Regions from separate parts of the Homo sapiens genome. Here regions 2, 3 and 4 are each linked to region 1. The links come from fine-mapping of genetic effects on gene expression. A gene starts in region 1. Each other region holds a variant in brackets. All regions are shown on one strand. Distances are from middle to middle.

Region 1 (5,156 bases):
AAAATCACAATTCTAGGAAAGAATTTTAAAAAGCAGTTTTAAAGGCTGGCATCAGTGAATTAACTGTTTTACCTGAAAGTTAACATCTTCTTTCTTAAATATTAGTGCTCGAACTTCATCAGGATCTCCGTTAAATATAGCTTGCACCAGTGATGGCTAAAATAGAAGAGAGTAATAAAAACATTAGAATCATCCATGTGGGGTGACTAAGGATATTTTACATAGTTCTGGAATCTACAAGTTTTCTTCCCTGTAGCAATAATCACTTTTGACATTAGCCAGAAGTTTCATAAAACCAAATCATGTCAAAGTACAGGATTCCTACTTGGAAAAAAAAGGCCTAATTAAAAAAAAAAATCAATTCAGTTTGACCCAATTTAGGTAGTATAATAAACAAAATCAGATTTTATTTCTTGTAAGTAGAAGCCTTTTGTTTCTGTATATGACAAAAAGAAAGACTCTTCCAAATACAAATGTGTGATCTCAACATCTACTTGTGGGACAGAACTTTTTAAGCAATTTCCAGCCCATGAAGGAAGGCTTTTTTGAAAAGGTCTGTTTGGGGCATCAAATTATCTTACATGGATTAGCATTACATGTATAAAGATACAAATCCCAAGAAAGCAAACCTGGCAGTTGATGAAAATAGCCACTAATCAAAGACCAAAAAATACTGGATACTTAAATAACTTGAAAAGACAAACACATGCATAACTAAATATAATAATTTCTTAATCAACGATACAGCCTCTTGATAAGGTATACTATACTAGTCAAGGAGCCAGCTGACAGTAGCACTAAAACCAAGGTTAAAGATGAAGACTGAATCTCATATAAAGTCTTATATGTAAATACATAAAATTCATTACAGAAAAGGCCATGCCTTAGTGTTGCTGGGGGTAGTCAACCTTTCCTAAAATATGCAGAGTTCCTGATTCTTGTTACATCAGTTTCTGAAACCACAAAATGAAAACAGAAACGTGGTTGCCATAACTACTAATTCTCAAATTATTTTTAAACAGTCTTTTAAAGAGATTAAGACATAGTAAAGACTGAAATGTTATCTCAGCATTCAAAAAAGTAAAAACGAAAAATGTGCATTTTATACAAAAATACTGCATCATATCTACACACGTATTGCTTTAATTTGGGTTTGTAAAGAAACTATTGGAAATTTACATCTATTCTTAAAAAACAAGATTTATACTACTAGTTCAGTAGAATATAGTAAACATATAAACTTACATATCTTACCAATACATTTCCAGAAGGTGGAGAATGTAGGGATTTATTTTCCTGTGGCAATTTAGAAATGAATGCAGGAGATTCATCTTCTACCTCCTCCAAAACAACAATACACACTCGACTCATTCGATCTTTTAAAACACTAAATTCCAAGCTATGTGATAAAAGTCACAGTTGGAAGAGCACAAGTAGTTTTTCCTCCTCTTCTGTACAACACTTACAAACATTCTCTGAACAGCACAGCTGGGTTTTTTTTTTTTTTAAAGTTAATAAGTACTACTGGAAAAACAAGTTTAAAATTATGACTACATAATTTGTAACTTCCTAAATATAACGAAATTCTATTATTTCTGTTGGATTACTGCAATACTTAAGAAGAAATTTCACACCAACATGTCAATAACTAAAACTGAGTCCAAGCTCATTTAAAAATATTTTTCCTCTACCAAAATAGTCTTATTGCTCTATCTCTGAAATTTACTTGCACAAAACAATCATTGTTTTTGGTGACACAACACCACACAATATAGAATGAAATGAGAAACAACTGCTGTGACAGAGATGATCACAGCGATACCCACTCTTGCCTGCAAGGTCATATAGTTACCAGTAGCTGTTTTGCTTATAATTGAAAATAAAAAATAAAATCTCACTATTCTGTTTCCACTTCTAATTTGTCTTCATTTCTTCATCACTGGTTTAATGCAGATACTATTCACAGAAAAAAGATCTAGAGCTCAGCACAAATCCTGAAAATGAAGCTCAGAGGTTAACAATTCTTTCAGTGTTTGGGAAAGGGGCAAAAAACAAAAACAAAAAAAAAAAAACCACTCTGCATTAATAGCAAAGCTGCAGTACGTTTACATGTGATGAGTCAGACCACAAGAGACAATACGACTCTTGGTACTAGAATACAGCTTGATTAATCCAGGTTTCCCATATAATAGAAGAAACACAGTTAGCTTTATTCCCATCGATAGCATAAGCAAGGCAGAGCGTTCATTCTTTCTCCATCAGGCAGTTGTCTGTGGCTGCTCCAGCAAAAGGGCACAGGCACCAGGCAGAAATGGTGTTAGTGGAGAATCCTAGTAGAACAAGCAGGCTGTGAAGGAATTAGAAGGCATTTGAGCTCAAATTACTGCTTCAGGCTTTTTGTTTTCTTTAAAAAAAAAAAGGGGGGGGAAAAACATAGTAGTGTATCATTCCAGTGTTTCCTTTGATCTCCACATGAATACAGCTTCCATTAAACAGTCTTCATTCAGAGAAAAAAATAGCAGACTGTGCATCTTCTTTGAGCCAACTACTTTATTCAGTCATCTGCCTCTTTGCCAATATAGTTTCCTTCCACTGTGAAAACCGCCACAGTTATCCTTTTCAGATTTCAAATGCTTTCCTGTTCCTCAGATGATCTTGCAAAACACCACTGACATCCCCAAATGAGTAGGTCCTTAAAAAATATCTATAGAACCTCAGTATCAGTCCCACAGAAGCATTCCAACGGAGCAACAGTCTGAAGAGCAAAGACTGCAGACCCACAGGATGAAATGCCTAGTAATGCTCACATGTTACACTTACCAGAGATCTGAGCTACTTCTCGGGATGTAACTTCCTCTAGCAGGAGAAAAAAATAGTGCATTTGGACAGCCTTCACAATTAGAAGGTTCATGCCAGTTCTGTGACTAATCCAAATCAAACTAAAAAATTCTATAACTGAAAAATGAGTGCGCTTTTAACATTTTCCACTAAAAGCCACAAGGAAATCTGGTGTACTGCCTCTGCTGACTAACAGTGGTTTTAGCAAGTAAACAATTCCAAACGGCTTAACTGCTTTCGTGTGTTACAATAAAGCAAATGTTTAACCCTATAATGACAGTTGCAGTAAGAATATGCCTGCAATGGACTCATAAAAAAGGTTTAAAGATGGAGAAATATTTTATTAGATTATAAAAACCATGAAATTGTTTTATTCATATTTTTACCAAGATCAGTTTTAATCTGCCAGGTGTATTTTATTTTCTAGAATGCAAAGCTTAAACAAATGAAATTTAAGATTGTCTAACAATTTCTAAATTGGTGAATTTAATCAATCATTGATTCATATTTTAAAGGGAAAAGCAAAAATTTCATAATGTAGAAATCCTAACTCTAAAATTATATAAATCATTTGATTTTTCACTGAAGAAATAAAATAATCCTACCTTCCCATTTGGATAGGGAATAAAGCCTTAAAAATCTGTTAAAGAGGTACATGAAAAAAAAAATGTCCTTCGTCCTGAATTACCTATGTCAAAAGGGCACAGGGTAATACAAATAATCTCCCTCCCTATAAATTTCCCAAAGCCATAAATAAATGTCAAAGCCAATCATTTCATCGTTTTTTTTCTTCTTTCTCTGTTTACCCAACATGGGGGATATTTCTCAAGAGAAAACTTACAAAGAAAATACCATGGTCCCCCTTCAATCTGTGTTCTTCATATTAACTAGCATTTTTATTAATAAACAATAATAAACATAATAGTTACTTTTGAACATCTGTGATATGCTATGTGCTGTACATTCTCATTTAATACAATAACCTTGCTGTATTCCCATTATAGAGGGAAAAACAGACTCAGAAATGATGTATTTTACCCAAAGTTGTATAAATTAATAAAGTTGTGTGTTATTTTAAACACATACTCTTTCTAATCTATTCTGCTATCACTGAGTACACACACATACAGACACACTCTCTTCTCTCCACTCATCTCCAGATCTTTGCAACCTGTAATACTAGCTTATAAAAGTGATCTTAACAAACAGGTAACCTATAAAGGTTGTGAAAAGTTTAGGTAACAAAGGAATATACTATTTATTGCTATATTCTAAAACGAGTTATTTTTAAATGGGTACTTCAAAGCAAGTCTTAAAACCATAAAAAGGAAAAAAAAAACAAAAAATCCCAGCATGATACAAATATAAGAATGTCAGAATTTAAAACAAGAACCATTGAAAGCTATAAAATGTATCAATCTATGGAAGAAGCAATAACTCTAACATATTTGTACCAATTAAAACATGCTAACAATTCATTAGTTATATTTTAAAATATATAAAATACTTTTATGCCAAATTAAAGGTATGTAAATATTGAACATACATCAATTATGTTATCCATCTCCACATAGCTGAATCAAAAAATCTTAATATTTGAAATATCTGAAAGTGAAACAACTATAGTAACAATATCCTATATTTCATCTTCAGGGTTCCCAAGCCCACAAAGCAAAATCTCTTTTTATCTTAACAATCTTAACTTGTTCCAAAGTATCTAGTACCTAAGTTCACCTACTTAGACTTAAGCAGGTACATCCTGTTTCTTGTTCTAAGTCAACCTCCACACTTAGGTCTTTCCCAACCAGAAAACAAACTCCTTGAAGGTAGGGACTGTGTTCATACATATTGTCTCCTTCCACTTTCTTCCACCTATAAATAATTTCATTGAAATGAATTCTGTCGTCACGAGACTCTGGAAGGGTGGAGATTTATAAACAAGAATAGTGGGGGTGTGTTGGTATACATATATTTTAACCAGAAAATATAGGTGGCATTAAGGTGCAACAAAGTGAGTTTCATATCTCTAATAAGTGAACAATTAAAATTTCAGAAGTTGACAGGATATAAAACAAAGGTATGGGGTGATGGTTAAAACTAAGGGCTCAGGAGTCAGCCCACCTGAAGTTCAATTCTGCTTCCATCATTTCCTAGCTGTGTCCTTGGACAAACCACTTAAATTCCCTAAGCCTAAATTTCTTGACACTTATATAAGAAAAAAATAACCTGCAAAGATTTTTGTCTAAGAGAAATAGAGTAACAGTACAGTGCTTGAGAATGTAGGCTATTTTGTGGTCAAATTGCCTGAAGTTCTAATC
Region 2 (5,156 bases), 180 kb before region 1:
CAGTTGTCCAAGCACCATTCATAATATAGTTCATTCTCATCCCAGTGATACATAATTTCCCCTCTGTGGAATGTCAAGCTCGCATATTTATGGGAGTATTTCTGTACTCTCTGTTCTTTTCCTATCCTAACACCAATCCCACACTATCTTAATTTCTGTGTTTTTAAAATAAGTCTTGATGTTGGTAGGACAAGTAGTCCCTGGACTTCATTCTTTTGAAGCCATCTTGTTTATTATATTAATTTTAAGCAACTAGAGGGGATGGAAGAGGAACCTTTAGATTAAAAGAGATTTAAAAGATAGGGTATTTTTTAATGGACAAGACTAAACTACAGTGTCTAGGGATGCACATTGGGTGATAAAGCTATTTTAAAAAACAAAGAAGTGATGAGTATAAAAGTCAGGGTCATGGTTACTTGATCCCTCATGGGTAATGTTGTCAGATTTAGAAAAAAAAAAAAAAACAGGACTCCAAAACTCCCAGTTGAATTTGAACTTTAGATGAACAATGCATAATTTTTTTTAGCGTAAGTATGTTCCAACATATTTATCTGAAAGTTAAATTTAACTGGGCCACCTGTATTTTACCTGGAAAAATCCTGATTTTATTCAAGGTGATAATGCAGTTTACATTGCCCAGCCTTCCTTGTAGCTAGGAGTGGTCACGCGTCCACACATGGGCCAAAGCAATTTAAATAGGAGTCACTGGGCAGGGCTTTTAGGAAAGCTGATGAAACTGGCAAGTACCCTCTGTACTCTTCCTCTGTACAACATGATAATTGGAGTTGTAGAAGTCATTTTGGAACCACAAGATGACTCTGAAAATGGAAGCTACATGCCAAGAAGTTAGGCCCAGAAAGAGAGGGATCCTGGGTCCTACATGACTCTTGCCTTTGTCAGGTTTTATTATCAGATTTTTATCACTTCATAAGAAAAAAATGCCTTCTTTTACTATATTCTCACACACATTGAGTAGCATTAGGATTATTTTTTCCTTTATAGTTAGAAAGAATTCTTCTAGAAACTATTTGGGCCTGTTTTGAGGGTGGAGAATGGGAGGGAATGATTGTTTGATAACTATTTCTTCTATGATTGTTGGCATGGTTTAGTTTTTTCTTTTATCCGAAGTTTTGGTAAAAATATATTTTTCAGTCCCAGCTACTCTGGAGGCTGAGGCACAAGGATTGCTTGAATCCAGGAGGCAGAGGTTGCAATGAGCTGAGATTGCACCACTGCACTCCAACCTGGGTGATGGCGTGAGACAGTCTCAAAAAAAAAAAAGAAAAAACAAATAATGTATTTTTTTTCTAGGAAACTACTCGTCTAAATTTTCTAGCTTATCAATATAGGATTGAATGAGGTGATTATTCTTTTTTAAAAAAAATTCTTCTGCATTTATAGATTTCTCTTTGTTTTGTATATTTGTTTCTCTTTTTTTTCTTAATTAGGCTAGCCGATCATTTGTCTTTACCTTTTTTTTTCTCTAAACAACAACTCCTTGGACATACTTATTCATTCTGTCATTTTTCTGTTTTCTAATTTAATTTCCACTCTTATTTTTATTTCCTTCCTTTTGCTTTCTTGAGCATGCCATTACTCTTTTCCTCACTGTTACCACCTTTTGTTAGTTTTACAATTTCTACATTGCCAGAGTTAATAACATTTGCACTGTGTTCTATAAATATAATCCTCATGTTTATTTTACATTCAAGGCTCTTGCCAGTTTTTCCATTCACCTCTTAATTGGCCGAAGATTACCCTCTATGCATTTTTTCAAAGAAGGCTGATGAGACTGATGAGAATAATAGTCCCTGAGTTCTTATATTTTCATACCTATTATCTGGTTTTTTTCTTTACTTCAACCATAGGTTGGCATAATATATAATTTCTGGCTTATATTTTATTTTCTGGAAGGATTCTATAGGCTTTTACTGGCATTGATGTTATTGTAGTAAAGTCTGAGGACAGCCTGATTATTTTGCCCCTAATAAATACCCTTGATCTTTTTATTTAGCTTCCCAAATGATTCTTACTTTATCTTTGAAGATCAAGAATTTTGCTAGGCTATCTGCCGATGTTGATGTTCTGTTCCTTTCTTTCTTGAGTTTTGCTATCTCTTTTCAAGCTATAAATTGAAATATGCTTTTATTTCTGGTGAGTTTTCTTCAATTACATCTTTAATTTTTTTTTTTTTTGCTTCATTATATGTTGTCTATTGTTGTATAAAAATTTACCCTACGACCTATTCAGCAGCTTAAAACAAGACCCATTTATTATCTCAAAGTCTCTATGTGTCAGGAGTCTGAGCATAGTTTTACTGGATCCTCTGGTCAGCATCTCACAAGGCTACAGTGAAGTTGTCAGCTGACCTCATGGTCTCATCTGAGGCTGAGTTTTCTTCCAAATTCAACTGATCGTTGAAAGAATGAATTTCCTTGCAGTTGTAGTATTCATGGTGGCTTGCTTCTTCAAGGTCAGCCGGGGAGAGAGTGTGTCTGAAATCTTGGAGCACCCCAGTTCTTTTTTTAAAGACCTGATTAATTCAGACCCACCAGGGTAATCTCTTTTGATTAACTAGATTAACTGGCTTGGGATTTTAACTACATATGTGAAAGCCCTTCACCTTTGTCATATTCTATTGGCTAGTAACAGAGTACAATTTCCACCTGCACTCAAGAAAAGAGGATTATACAAGGAGTCACCTTAGGGTGTGTCCACCACACATTATTTTTTTCTTTTATGCATTTTCCAATTATGCATATGATGGATCTCGTTCACTGTTCTCCCTGTCTATCATTTTCTGTGGACTCCTTTTCAATTCTGTATTTCCATTCATGTTGCTTATTTATTTACAGCATCATCTGATTTCTTTTGCTGCTTCTATCTTTGCCATAATTTCTTGATGTTTTAATTTTTTCTTCTGCTTCTTTCCTGAGCCCTGCCAGATAATATTTCATCTGTCTCCCAGCTTTCTATTCCCCACTCCCTTCTCCCTTCTCTCTTCT[TC/T]CCTCTTCCCCCTCCTTACCTTCTCCTCTTCTCCTCCTTTCCTCCCCTTCTCCCCTTTTTCCCTTTCATCTTTTAATTCTCTTGGTCTATTTTGTGCTTTTATTTAATATAAGCAGTTTTTTTTCACTCGTGGCAGAATGTTTTGTCACAGTTTTTATTTGTGTTGTGGCAATTTTCTGGGGTATAACCTTTGTTTTCGTATAGTATCTTTCAAAAGATCTTGAGCTTTTTATTTACTCATTTTTGAGTGAGTTTTTCCTCTACTGTAGGAGGTTTATGTGTGAACAAGGCCATTCTGGTTCACAGTTATTTTTTCTTAGCACATTTAAGATTTTGTTTTCTTACTTCTATTGTTACTCTTGAAAAGTCTGCTGTTTTCAAATCACCATATCTTTGAAGGCAATCTCTCTTCCCTCTGGTTGCGTCTAAGATTTTTTTCTTCTTCAAATATTTCGTGTTCTGGTTTCTTTATGTTGTGTATAGATTTCTTTTTGGTTGTCTTGAATCTATGGATTTCTGTATTTTATTATTAAAATTCTCACCTATTATACCTTCAAACATGTGTAATGTGTCATGTGTCATTTTATGTATTTTCTCCCTCTTTCTTTCTTTCTTTTTTTTTTTTTTTTAAGTCAAGGTCTTGCTCTGTCGCCCAAGCTGGAGTACAGTGGCACAGCCGTAGCCCACTGCAGCCTTAAACTCCTGGGCTCAAGCAATCCTACCACCTCAGCCTCTTGAGATGCTGGGACCGCAGGTGTACACCACCATGCCCAGCTAATACTTTTTTACTTTTTGTAGAGATTATATTGCCCAGGCTGGTCTTGAATTCCTGGCCTCAAGTGATCCTCTCATCTTGACCTCCAAAGTGTTGGGATTACAGGCATGAGCCATTGCACCCAGCCTCTATTTTCTCCTTCTGAAATTCCAATTAGAAATATCATGGAACATCATATATGTCTTCCATGTCTCATCTTCTTTTTTTCCCTTTTGTCATCTCTGTGGTACATTCTAAACAAATTTTTTAATGATTCTAACGGCCATGCCACAAAATGTCTCCATTTGGTTTTATTTGACAATATCTTTTTCTTTTTTTTTTTTTTTTTGACACAGAGTCTCTCTCTATTACCCAGGCTAGAGTGTAGTGGTGTGATCTTAGCTCACTGCCACCTCCGCCTCTGAGCTCAAGCAATCGCCCTACCTTAGCCACCCAAGTAGCTGGGACTACAGGCATGCACCACCACACACAGCTAATTTTTGTATTTTTTGTAGAGATGGGGTTTTGCCATGTTGCCCATGCTGGCCTCCAACTCCTGGGCTCAAGTTATCTTCCTGCCTTGGCCTTCCAAAGTGCTGGGATTACAGGCATGAGCCACCACTCCCAGCCAACAATATCTTATTCTTTTACCTGTTTTAGAGTCCTCTGAGTACTTCTTTAATCAACTTCAGTGTACTTATTTGAAAATTTTCACTAGTAATCCTTCCATCTGAAGTTGTTGGGGGCCTGATTTTGCTGTATTCTTTAACTTTCTTGCATAATATTTGCTTCCTTGTGTGTTTTGTAATTTTGAATTTTGAGCTCTTGTTTACCTTGTTCTTCAACCCAGGACACTCAGTCTTCAAGAAGAGAGTATGTGGATAGGCTTTTCCAGGCATCTTAGGACTGATAACATCTCAAAATCACTTTGTGCTCATTTCTTGGCATAGAGTTACCTGGGTCATGTATGTTGTGAGTTTTTGAATCATGAACCCACATAAGGAAAACCTTTGATTATGTTGGTTATGACTTTCAAGGAGTACTATTTTCCCCTGCTCAGAGCCCAAGATGAGATGTACAAGTTTCTACGTCAGATAGTTACTTTGGCAGGCAGGCAGATATTTGTTTTTGTCCATCCTTTCAATAAAGGAATCATTCCTTAAGGTTCCTAGCTATATGCACAGATCTCACTCCAACCTCCACATCTTGTCTTTCTGTCCTTCATGGTCTTTAAAATCTAAACCCCTTGGATATCAAGATTGGGACATGTTCCAGTATCACCTCACCACTCCAGTTTTCAGTTACTTGATTTTAGTTTTTATTTTTTAAATGCTTTTTTTAAAAGAGAAGTTTTATGCTCACAATAAAATTGAGCAGAAAGTACAGAAAGTTTACA
Region 3 (5,156 bases), 34 kb after region 1:
TGAAGCCATATGAATGAGCTTTTAGTACTTTTTTCACATTAAAATCCATTGGTCTAACTGAACTTTGAATGGATCTTTTTTAACCCATGTGTCATTTTACAATATCATATATCAGTAATTTGGAAAATGCTGGTTCACTGGTTTACGAAGGTCTTCAATTACTGACACGTTTCATGATATACAATATCAAAAGTCATATTTATTAATATTACTACCAAAGCCACCACAAAACATCTTTAAGCTCTGTAAAGGTAGCAAGCTCAAGGTGGCCGATACAGATTTACTCAAATTCTAATTTTGCTTGGAAGCTCAAATTTCATCATCTGTAACAAATATTGACAGTGGCTTTCCTTGAAGTGACAAGTTCACTTTGTTCCTTTTCAAGGAATATTTTCAATAAAAGGTTTGCCAAAGAGCCAAATCTGAATAACCATAATGTTAGTTGTTTTTTCAAGTAAAAAGGTATTCTATTAAAAAAAAAAAAAAGTCTAGTCCAGCTAGCAACTCAATCACATAAGCATTTTTCCTGTGCAGCATATACTCATTTTATCATACAGACACCCCAGGGTGAAGTGTAATGTAAGTAATTTATACTTAAAAACAATCTTAAGGGAAATAGGCTTTTCCCTCCCCTTAACTGTAAGCAAGGCAGTGAAAAACACAGTCTGGTGCCACTAACTTGATTCCTAATACATCAGCAGTAAGTACTATTACTTTTGTACCATTAATGCGAATGTCGAAGTAAAAAACGCATATAACATTTTATTATTATGATAACAGTTTTGACTTTAGGGACTCCCAGGGGTTCATGGACCACACTATGAGAAGTCTCTTAGACCAGGGTCCCTAACCCCTGGACTGAGGACTGCTAGCCATTCATGGCCTGTCAGAAACTGGGCTGGATAGCAGGAGGTGAGCAGCGGGCAAGCAAGCATTACCACCTCAACTCTGACTCCTGTCAGAGTAGCGCAGCATTAGATTCTCATAGGACTGCCAATCCTATTTTGAATTGCACATCTGAGGGATCTAGGTTATGTGCTTTTTACAACACTCTAACTAATGCCTGATGATCTGAGGTGGAACAGTTTCATCTCAAAACCATCCCACCCCCCACCGCACCCCCATCCACGGAAAAATTGTCTTCCACGAAACTGGTCCCTGGTGCCAAAAACACTGGGGACTGCTGCAGTAATGGATTAATTTTGGCCAAAGAAAGGTTTGGCCCTTGCTCAGCTCCTAGGAGGTAACTGCTAACCCCTTGGAATGTCCTGCTTGATAAAGAGTCGTTGTTTACCTGGGGGCTTTGGTCCATGACAGATAGTCTAACAATATGATTCTTGGTGGGACCTTTAAGTCACGGAGTATCAGCTTGACCTCTGGAGGGGATGGAGACTAACATCAGCCACAGGTGTGGTCAACCATACCTATGTGACTGACTTCTCAATAAAAACTCTGGACAGCAAACCTCACGTGGGTGGCCTTGGTTGGCAATACTCCTTGCGTGTCACCATATATTGTTGCTGGGAAAAGTAAGCACTGTCTGCACAACCCCATTAGGAGAGGACATCTGGAAGTTCACGCCTGAAACTCTCCTGGACCTCTGTCCTATGCACCTTTACCCACTGTTGGTTTTAATCCGTATTCTTTTGATGTAATAAACCATACCATTAATTTAACTGCTTTGCTGAGTTCTGTGAGTCTTTCTAAGCAAATTATCAAATCTGAGAGTGCACAATCTCCCACAAACTAAACAAGCTGGTCAAGATCAAACTCCTGAGTATATATAACAAAAGCCAATCCCCACCTACATGTTTCTCTACACAAGACACTGTTTTGCCCAAGACCAAAAACTATTGTGCATATGTGCACAGATCCAAATTGCACTGCCAAACTCCACATAACTACCAGCCCCTTCTCCAAGCAGCTTGTTTTAGAGCAGGGATTCTCACCAAATGATTCTTTGTTATAGAGGAACGTCCTGTCCACAGTAGGATGTTTAGCAGCATCCCTGGCCTCTGTCCAATAGGTGCCAATAGTATCCTTCCCTCCTTCCCAGTGGTAACAACAAAAAATGTCT[C/T]CAGACACTGTCAAATTCCCCTGAGGAGAAAAATCGCTCTCCCCTCAATATTGAAAATCACTGTTTCAGGAAACTCACCTAGGTAGTCTGACCTTGCCTTATCTTTTACAAAAAAAGGGAATAAATTCACTTTTAGCTCTACCTTCCTGCCTTTCCTAATGTTAATTATTTGATGATGGAAAGCAATTGCACATTCTGAGTTCTACCTTCAAAAAATATCTGGATAGAAGTGGTGAACTAAAAACTCTTCCTTCTGGGGAACTCAGTCAGATTACCAATTTCAAGAGAAGGAGAAGCCTCTAACAATGATCTTTAAATAAGGATACATATATATTTTCTGTATCTTATGCACACCACAGAGGGAAGATAGACTAGTTTTCTTCAACCTTGGGAGTATACATCAAAATAACCCCCAGTAGTTTTTAAAAATATAGGTGCCAGGGTCCTATCTCAGACACACTTAATCAGAATTCATTATTTATCCAGCAATTGAGTGTCCACTATATGCCAAAGCATTGTTACAGGTGCTGGAGACACAGCAGTAAATAAAAGACATCGTATTTGCCCTTGAAGAACTCACATTCCAGTAGAGTGAGACATTTCATAAACATATAGACAAATAAGATCACTTCAGATAGTGCTACAGGGAAATAAATAGAATAAAGGAAGAAATTTCTCTGCATTCTCAGCAATATCTGCAGAAATACATTCAAAGTTAAATGTGGTAAGTGAAAATATTATTTTGCATTTTATTATTTAGAAAGCCTGTGACATAATTACATACCTACATTTAAAATTCCTTATGTGTAGGGGTGCTGAGCAAAAGTGTCTCTCCCTACTCTTTGGGAATCTTTAAGCTCAAGATTAGGTAAATTCCCTCCCAGTTTCAATTCTAATTTCCATCAGTTCAATGAAAACATTATGCTAAATTTTAAAAATAAATTTAGGGGATACACTGCAGATTTCTTACATGCACTTACTGCATTGTGATGAAGTGCGCTTTTAGTGTAGAGATCACCTAAATAGTGAACACTGTATCCAACAGGTGATTTTTCAACCCTTGCCCACCTCCCACCTTTTGTAGTTTCTAATATCTGTTATCCCCTTGGTATGTCCCATATACCCTTGTTTAGCTCCCATTTAGAAGTGAGAACATGCAGTATTTGACTATGTTTCCAAGTTATTTCACGGAGGATAATGGGCTCCAATTCCATCCATGTTTGCTGCAAAAGACATGATTTCATTCTTTATACATATACACCACATTTTCTTTATCCAATCTTCTGTTGATGGATATTTAGGCTGATTCCACGTATATGCTACGGTGAATAGCGCTGCAATAAACATACCAGTGTAGATACCTTTTTGACATGATTTCTTTCCCTTAGGGTATATTCACAGTAGTGGGACTGCAGAATCAAATGGTATCACTATTTTTAGTTCTTTGAGAAATCTCCATACTATTTTCCATAAGGATTTTACTAACTTACATTCCCACCAATAGTGTATAGTGTATAAGCATTCCCTTTTCTTCACACCTGTGATGGTTAAAACTGAGTGTCAACTTGATTGGATTGAAGGATGCAAAGTATTGATCCAGGGTGTGTCTGTGAGGGTGCTGCCAAAGGAGATTAACATTTAAGTCAGTGGGCTGGGAAAGGCGGATCTACCCTTAATCTGAGTAGGCACCATCTAATCAGCTGTCAGCACAGCTGGAATATGAAGTAGGCAGAAAAACGTGAAAAGACTAGACTGGTGTAGCCTCCCATCCTACATCTTTCTCCTGTGCTGGATACTTCCTGCCCTCAAGCATTGGACTCCAAGTTATTCAGTTTTGGGGCTCGGACTGGCTATCCTTGCTCCTCAGCTGGCAGATGCCCTACTGTGGGACCTTGTGATCATGTGAGTTAATACTTAAACTCCCCTTCATATATATATAATATATAAAAATATACTACATATTATGTACTATATATATATAAAATATATACATTATTTTTTATATATATAATGTGTGTGTGTATATATATATCTCCTATTAGTTCTGTCCCTCTAGAGAACCCTAATACAGCACCCTTGGCAACATCTGTTGTTTTTTTGACCTTTTAATAGTAACTAACCATTCTGACTCATATAAGATGGTTTTAACCCATTTATGCTGGAAGCTGCAATTATGAGTGAAAAATCAGAACTTGGCAATGACCTTGAGCAGTAGGATATAAATAACTCCCACATGCTTAGTGTTCCAATAATGGAACACTAGGCATAAGTGGATTAATTTGTATTTCTTTTATGACTAATGATGTTGAGGATTTTTTCATGTTTTTTGGCCACTTGTATGTCTTCTTTTGGAAAATGTCTGTTTGTGTTATTTGCCCATTTTTTAATGTTTGTTTTTTTCTTAAGTTCCTTGTAGATTCTGGATATTAGCCTTTTGTCAGATGCAGTTTTCACATTTTGCACATATTTTTTCCCCTTTCTGTAGGTTGTATGTTTACTCTGTTCACTGTTTCTTTTACTGTGTGAAAGCTTTTTTAAAATTGTCTCATTTGTGTATTTTTGTTTTTGAGGACTTGGTTATAAATTATTTGCCTAGACCAATGTCCAGAATTTTTCTCAGGTTTTCTTCAGTATTTTTATAGTTTCAGGTCTTATGTTTAGCTCTTTAATCCATCTTGAGTTAATCTTTGTATATGGTGAGAGGCATGGGTCCAGTTTCATTCTTCTACATATAGCTATCCAATTTTCCCAGACCCATTTACTGAATCGAGTGTCCTTTCCCCAGTGTATATTCTTGTTGATGATTAGCTGGTTGTAGGTATGTGGCTTTATTTCTGGGTTCCCTATTTTGTTCCAGTAATATATATATCTATTTTTATGCCAGTACCATGTTGTGTTGGTTACTATAGTCTTGCAGTATATTTTGAAGTCAGATAATGTGATGCCTCCACGTGCTCTTGAACATGGGAGAGTTTAATGATTTTATTAACAAGAATAAAAAGAGCTCCTGAAGAAGTCAATCAAAGGGGAAAAAATCCACTGAAAAGCTAATCATCATAAGGATTGTTTACAACAGAAT
Region 4 (5,156 bases), 140 kb after region 1:
AATCTCTTTCTTTAAACAAACAAAAACAGAAACAAAAATCCTCCATCTTTTGAGCTATAATGTAAACGAACCAACTATTAACAAAATGTTTGGGGAACAACCAGAAAAATTTGAACACGGACAGAATGCTAGAGAGTATTAAACCGTTGTTATTATTATTATAGGCATGATGATGGTGTTGTGGTCATATATTTTTATAGTCCTATTGTGGACTGAATATATTCCCCCAAAATTCATATATTGAAGCCTGAACCCCCATTTTGACTGTATTAGAAGAAGGACCTTTAAATAGGTTACAGGGGCTAAATGAGGACCTAATCTAGTGGGAGCAGGGTGGGGTCCTAAGTGTCCTTATAAGAAGAAGAGCCATGGGGTAGGGCACTAGCATAAAGAAAAGGCTATGTGGGGACACAGTGAAAAGGTGGCCATCTGCAAGGCAAGGAGGCTGGCCTCAGGAGAAACCAACCCTGCCGGCACCTTCATCTGGACTTCTAGCCTCTAAAAATGAGAGGAAAATATTGTCTATTGTTTTAGCCACCCAGGCTATGGTATTTGTTATGGAAGCACTAGCAAACTAAGATGAATCCTTATATACTAGAGATACCCACTGAATTATTTATGAGTGGAATAATATGATGTCTAAAGTTTTGCTTTAAAATACTCCAGAAATAAAAATTGAGGATAGCAGATAGATAAAACAAGACTGGCTAAGGTTGACAGTTATTGGAGCTGGGTAACAAGTACTTGGAGGTACATTGTACTATTATTCTCTTCTACTGTGGACTATGTTTGAAAATATTCAAATAAGTTTTAACAAATTGACATGGACAATTGTACAGGTGATTTTTATGTATATTCAAGTAGATAATTACCAAGAAAAGGTTTCCCATAATCTTGTATTCTAACCTGGGCTGCTGTGGCCTGGAATAAAATGTCACAAATATATATTTATAAATAAAACAGTCACTAAATATAATAAGGGAAAAGAATAAAAATGCCCACTGCAGACAGTGGAACTGTGGGCAAGGGGCAAGCAGTCAGAGAAGGAGGAATCAGCATTCATTGAGTGCCTAATACATACCAGGTGCTTTGTAAACATTGTCTTTGGATACTCACATAGGTTTATGAAGTAGACTTATAATTTTCAATCCTTTAAAAACATTTTAATATGAAGAAACTAAGGCCCAGGGAGGAGGAATGAATTCCTAAGATCACACACTAGGAAGTGGCTGAGCTGGGATTTTAATCCTATCTGTCTGCTTCCAAAACTTGCATTCTTTTCTCTGTACAATACCTTTTCCCTAGATATTGCCAAATATCAGATCATAAAGGACAGGAATTCTGAAGAGGATAAAATCGTAGACAGACCATTACCAAAGGAGTTGGACTTGGAGGTAAGTCCTGGAAGTGGAGAAAAGACATGCAAGCAACCTAGGAGTGGGGAGGGATGGCAAGATGCAGAAACTTGGTGGCAGGTGGAGAATGGGGTAAGAATGAGAGGCCACCACTGCAGGCTCATATTTCTTGAATGAAGGGATAGACCAGATGATCTTTCAAATCTAAAATTCTGTCAACCCTCATCTGAGCCTCTCCACTAGGATGTTCCACCTTCATCTCCAGTTCTACATTTTTAAAACTAGATTCATTACTTTCTCTCCTCCCCACCTGAAACAATTTCCTCCTGGATTCCCTCACCTGCTGATAGGATTCTCTCACCCACCTACATTTAACACCTGTCATCTTTACCAATCTTGTCCAGGCCCAAGTCTTGGGACAGCACTGGTAAAAGAATCCTGATAAAAGTTTGTGTCACTCCTTTGCTCAAAACTCTAGGAGCTCCCCTATCTGTTCCTTGAATACCTAAGCCATGTTCTGGCCTCAGAGCCTTTGCACTGGCAGTTCTCTCTACCCAGAAGGCTCTTCTGCCAGATATCCATCTTAATCTCCTTTACGACTTTATTCAGTGTCACCATCCCAATGAGACCTTCCTTGACCACCTGTTTTAAGTTGCACCTACCTGCGTCTTCCCCTGCTGCATGCCTAATCTCTTATACCATGATCTACTATTTTTCCCTCAGCACTTGTTTCTTTTTAACACACTATTTGTTTTTCTTTTCTCTTAAAAATTGTGTATCTCCCTTCATTAGAATAGAAGTCAGACAAGGGCAGGGCTTTTGTCCAATTTGTTCACTTCTCTAACCCTAAGAATTAACAACAATGCCTGGGCGCATAGA[A/G]ATTTCTCAATGAATGAATGAATCCATGTCTTATAAATGAAGTACAGCATAACATGGAAACTAATAAATAAAGATATGGATAAAGTTCTGGGGAAAAAAATGGCTGTCAGTTCTACCCACCTTGGAGTGTCAGGAAAAGTTTCACACAAGAGGTGACAATTGAGCTGAGACTTAAATGTAAGTGGGCCAAGGTAGATGGGGTAGGTGAATAATGGTCCCCAAAGAGATCAAGTCCTAATCCCTGGAGCCTGGGGTTATAGGATGTATTAGTCCATTCTCAGGCTGCTATAAGGACATACCCAAGACTGAGTAACTTATAAAGAAAAGAGGTTTAACTGACTCATAATTCTGCAAGGCTGGGGAGACTTCAGGAAACCTTACAATCATGGTGGAAGGGGAAGCAAATACATCTTTCTTCACATGGTGGCAAGAGAGTGAAATGAGAGTTGAGTAAAGGAGGAAGCCCCTTGTAAAACCATCAGATCTCATGAGAACTCACTCACTATCATGACAACAGTATGGGGGAAACTGCTGTCATGATTCAATTATGTCCACCTGGTCCCGCCCTTGACATGTGGGGATTATTACAATTCAAGATGAGATTTTGGGTGGGGATGTGTCCGGAATTTATTCCTTCTGGTGGGTTCTTGGTCTTGCTGACTTCAAGAATGAAGCCGTGGACCTTCGTGGTGAGTGTTACAGCTCTTAAAGATGGTGTGTCTGGAGTTCCTTCAGATGTTCAGATGTGTCTGGAGTTTCTTCCTTCTGGTGGGTTCGTGGTCTCGCTGACTTCAGGAATGAAGCTGCAGACCTTCACAGTGAGTGTTACAGCTCTTAAAGGTGGCATGTCCAGAGTTGCTTGTTCCTCCCGATGGGTTCATGGTCTTGCTGACTTCAGGAATGAAGCTGCAGACCCTCGTGGTGAGTGTTACAGCTCATAAAGGTAGTGCGGACACAAAGAGTGAGGAGCAGCAAGATTTATTGTGAAGAGCGAAAGAACAAAGCTTCCACGGCATGGAAGGGGACCTCAGTGGGTTGCTGCTGCTGGCTCAGGTGGCCAGCTTTTAGTCCCTTATTTGGCCCCGCCCACATCCTGCTGATTGGTCCATTTTACAGAGTGCTGATTGGTCCATTTTACAGAGTGCTGATTGGTGCATTTACAATCCTTTAGCTAGATACAGAGTGCTGATTGGTGCCTTTTTACAGAGTGCTGATTGGTGCATTTACAATCCTTTAGCTAGACACAGAATGCTGATTGGTGCATTTTTACAGAGTGCTGATTGGTGGATTTACAATCCTTTAGCTAGACACAGAGCGCTGATTGGTGTGTTTTTAGAGTGCTGATTGGTGCATTTACAATCCTTTAGCTAGACACAGAGTGCTGATTGGTGCATTTACAATCCTCTAGCTAGACAGAAAAGTTCTCCAAGTCCCCACCTGACCCAGAAGCCCAGCTGGCTTCACCTCTCAGGGACACAGCCAAACCATACAATGTGGCAAAAGAGACTTAACAGATGTGACTAAGCTAAGTATCTTGAGATGGAAATATTATTCTGTATTATTCAGCGGGACCATAAATGGAATCATAAGTATTCTTATAAGGGAGAGGCAAAGGTAGATTTAGCAGCAGCAGCATAAGCAGAAGTTGATGTGACACTAGAGCAAGATGCTGTGCTGCTGGCTTTAAAGATGGAAGAAGGAGTCATGAGCCAAAGAATGCAAATAATGTGGCTCTAGAAGCTGGAAAGGGCAAGAAAACAGATTCTTCCCTTCAGCTTGTGGAGGGAGCACAGCCCTGCTGACACCTTGATTTCAGCTCAGTAAAACTGATTTTGGACTCTGACCTCCAGGAATTGTAAAAGAATAAATGTGCATTGTTTTAAGCCACCAAGTTTGTGGTAATTTGTTACAGCAACCATTAAAAACTAATACAGAAGGTGAGGGCATCCTATTAGGAGGGAATAGTATGTACAAATTGTGAAAGTGACAGCATTTTCAAGACACCCCTGGGAAACTTAATGTACTTGGGTTAAGCAGTAGGGAGTAGAGAAAGGTGGGGTTGGAGATGTGGCAGGAGCTAGATTGTGAAGGGCCTTGCATGTCATGTAGAAGAGTTGGGTGGTATTCTATTGGTATAGGGAAATGTAATGACCTTCAGTCCTGAATGGCATATTTTCCTGGCTGCAGGGAGTGCTGCTGGCAGATGGCCCTTACTTGCAACTCTCTTCTGGAATCTCTTTTTTATGCATGCAGCTGTCTATCCCAAGCTCATACCAGCTTCCTGGGGCAACCAATGAGTGGTCTACACAGAAGTATACTCTGTCATTTCACTCCAATTCAGAAGAACTCTGAAGGGCCATCCCAACTTCAGAGCTTCCCAGGAGGTTAGCTAAAGCTTTGTTGTGATGACTTTGGAGCTCAACTTCCCTGTGTGTCCAATCCTGCCTTCTTCTCTCTCTTCTACAGGTATTAATCCCAACAGCCCTCCCTAATAAACATCCTGCCTGCTAGTCTTTGTCTCATTCAGCCTCCTTGGGAACTCACCCTGCCAATAGGGGTTAAATGGTCTTTAAGTAAGAGAATGAAAGGTAAGATTGGTTTGGGTGGTGATAACTCAGATCAGTGTGAGGACGCGCTAGGCTGGGGAGAGACTGGAGGAGAGATCAGTTAGGAAACTGGAGCAAGATTCCAGGTGAGAGATGATGAAATCCTGGGCAAAGGTAGAGGCAAAAGCAACTCTAGGCATGGTTGTCAGCTTTCCTGTGAACAGCCTCTTGAAGCCTAGTCCATAGCATGTTAACTAAAAGTTCTTCCTCATAGGCAACACAAGGGAAAATAGACAAATTAGATTATATCAAACTAAAAAACTTCTGCACAACAAAAGAAAGAATCAATTGGGTGAAGAGACAACCTATGGAGTGG

Evidence for each region. PIP is the estimated chance that this variant, and not a neighbour inherited with it, causes the effect. A credible set is the group of variants that fine-mapping cannot tell apart.
Region 2: its variant is the best candidate, but not a certain one, in a credible set for the expression of ANKRD28 in whole blood (INTERVAL, PIP 0.77).
Region 3: its variant is the best candidate, but not a certain one, in a credible set for the expression of ANKRD28 in whole blood (TOPMed, PIP 0.83).
Region 4: its variant is the best candidate, but not a certain one, in a credible set for the expression of ANKRD28 in whole blood (TOPMed, PIP 0.57).

What each region holds. Positions count from the first base shown.
Region 1 is chr3:15,795,151-15,800,306 of GRCh38, forward strand. It overlaps ANKRD28 (ankyrin repeat domain 28), which reads right to left and starts at 2,829. Exons shown (of 28, transcript NM_001349278.2): 1 at 1,255-2,829; 2 at 73-156. The coding sequence starts at 1,371.
Region 2 is chr3:15,610,507-15,615,662 of GRCh38, forward strand. All of the region lies in intron 1 of BTD (biotinidase), which reads left to right. Among named protein-coding and RNA genes, the nearest start is that of BTD, 11 kb to the left of the region's middle. The variant TC/T (reference allele first, on the strand shown) is at 3,006.
Region 3 is chr3:15,829,468-15,834,623 of GRCh38, forward strand. It overlaps a transcript of ANKRD28 not described here. Among named protein-coding and RNA genes, the nearest start is that of ANKRD28, 34 kb to the left of the region's middle. The variant C/T (reference allele first, on the strand shown) is at 2,078.
Region 4 is chr3:15,938,205-15,943,360 of GRCh38, forward strand. It overlaps LOC107986064 (a long non-coding RNA gene), which reads left to right. Exons shown (of 10, transcript XR_007095831.1): 3 at 1,306-1,394; 4 at 4,422-4,700. Among named protein-coding and RNA genes, the nearest start is that of MIR563, 67 kb to the left of the region's middle. The variant A/G (reference allele first, on the strand shown) is at 2,235.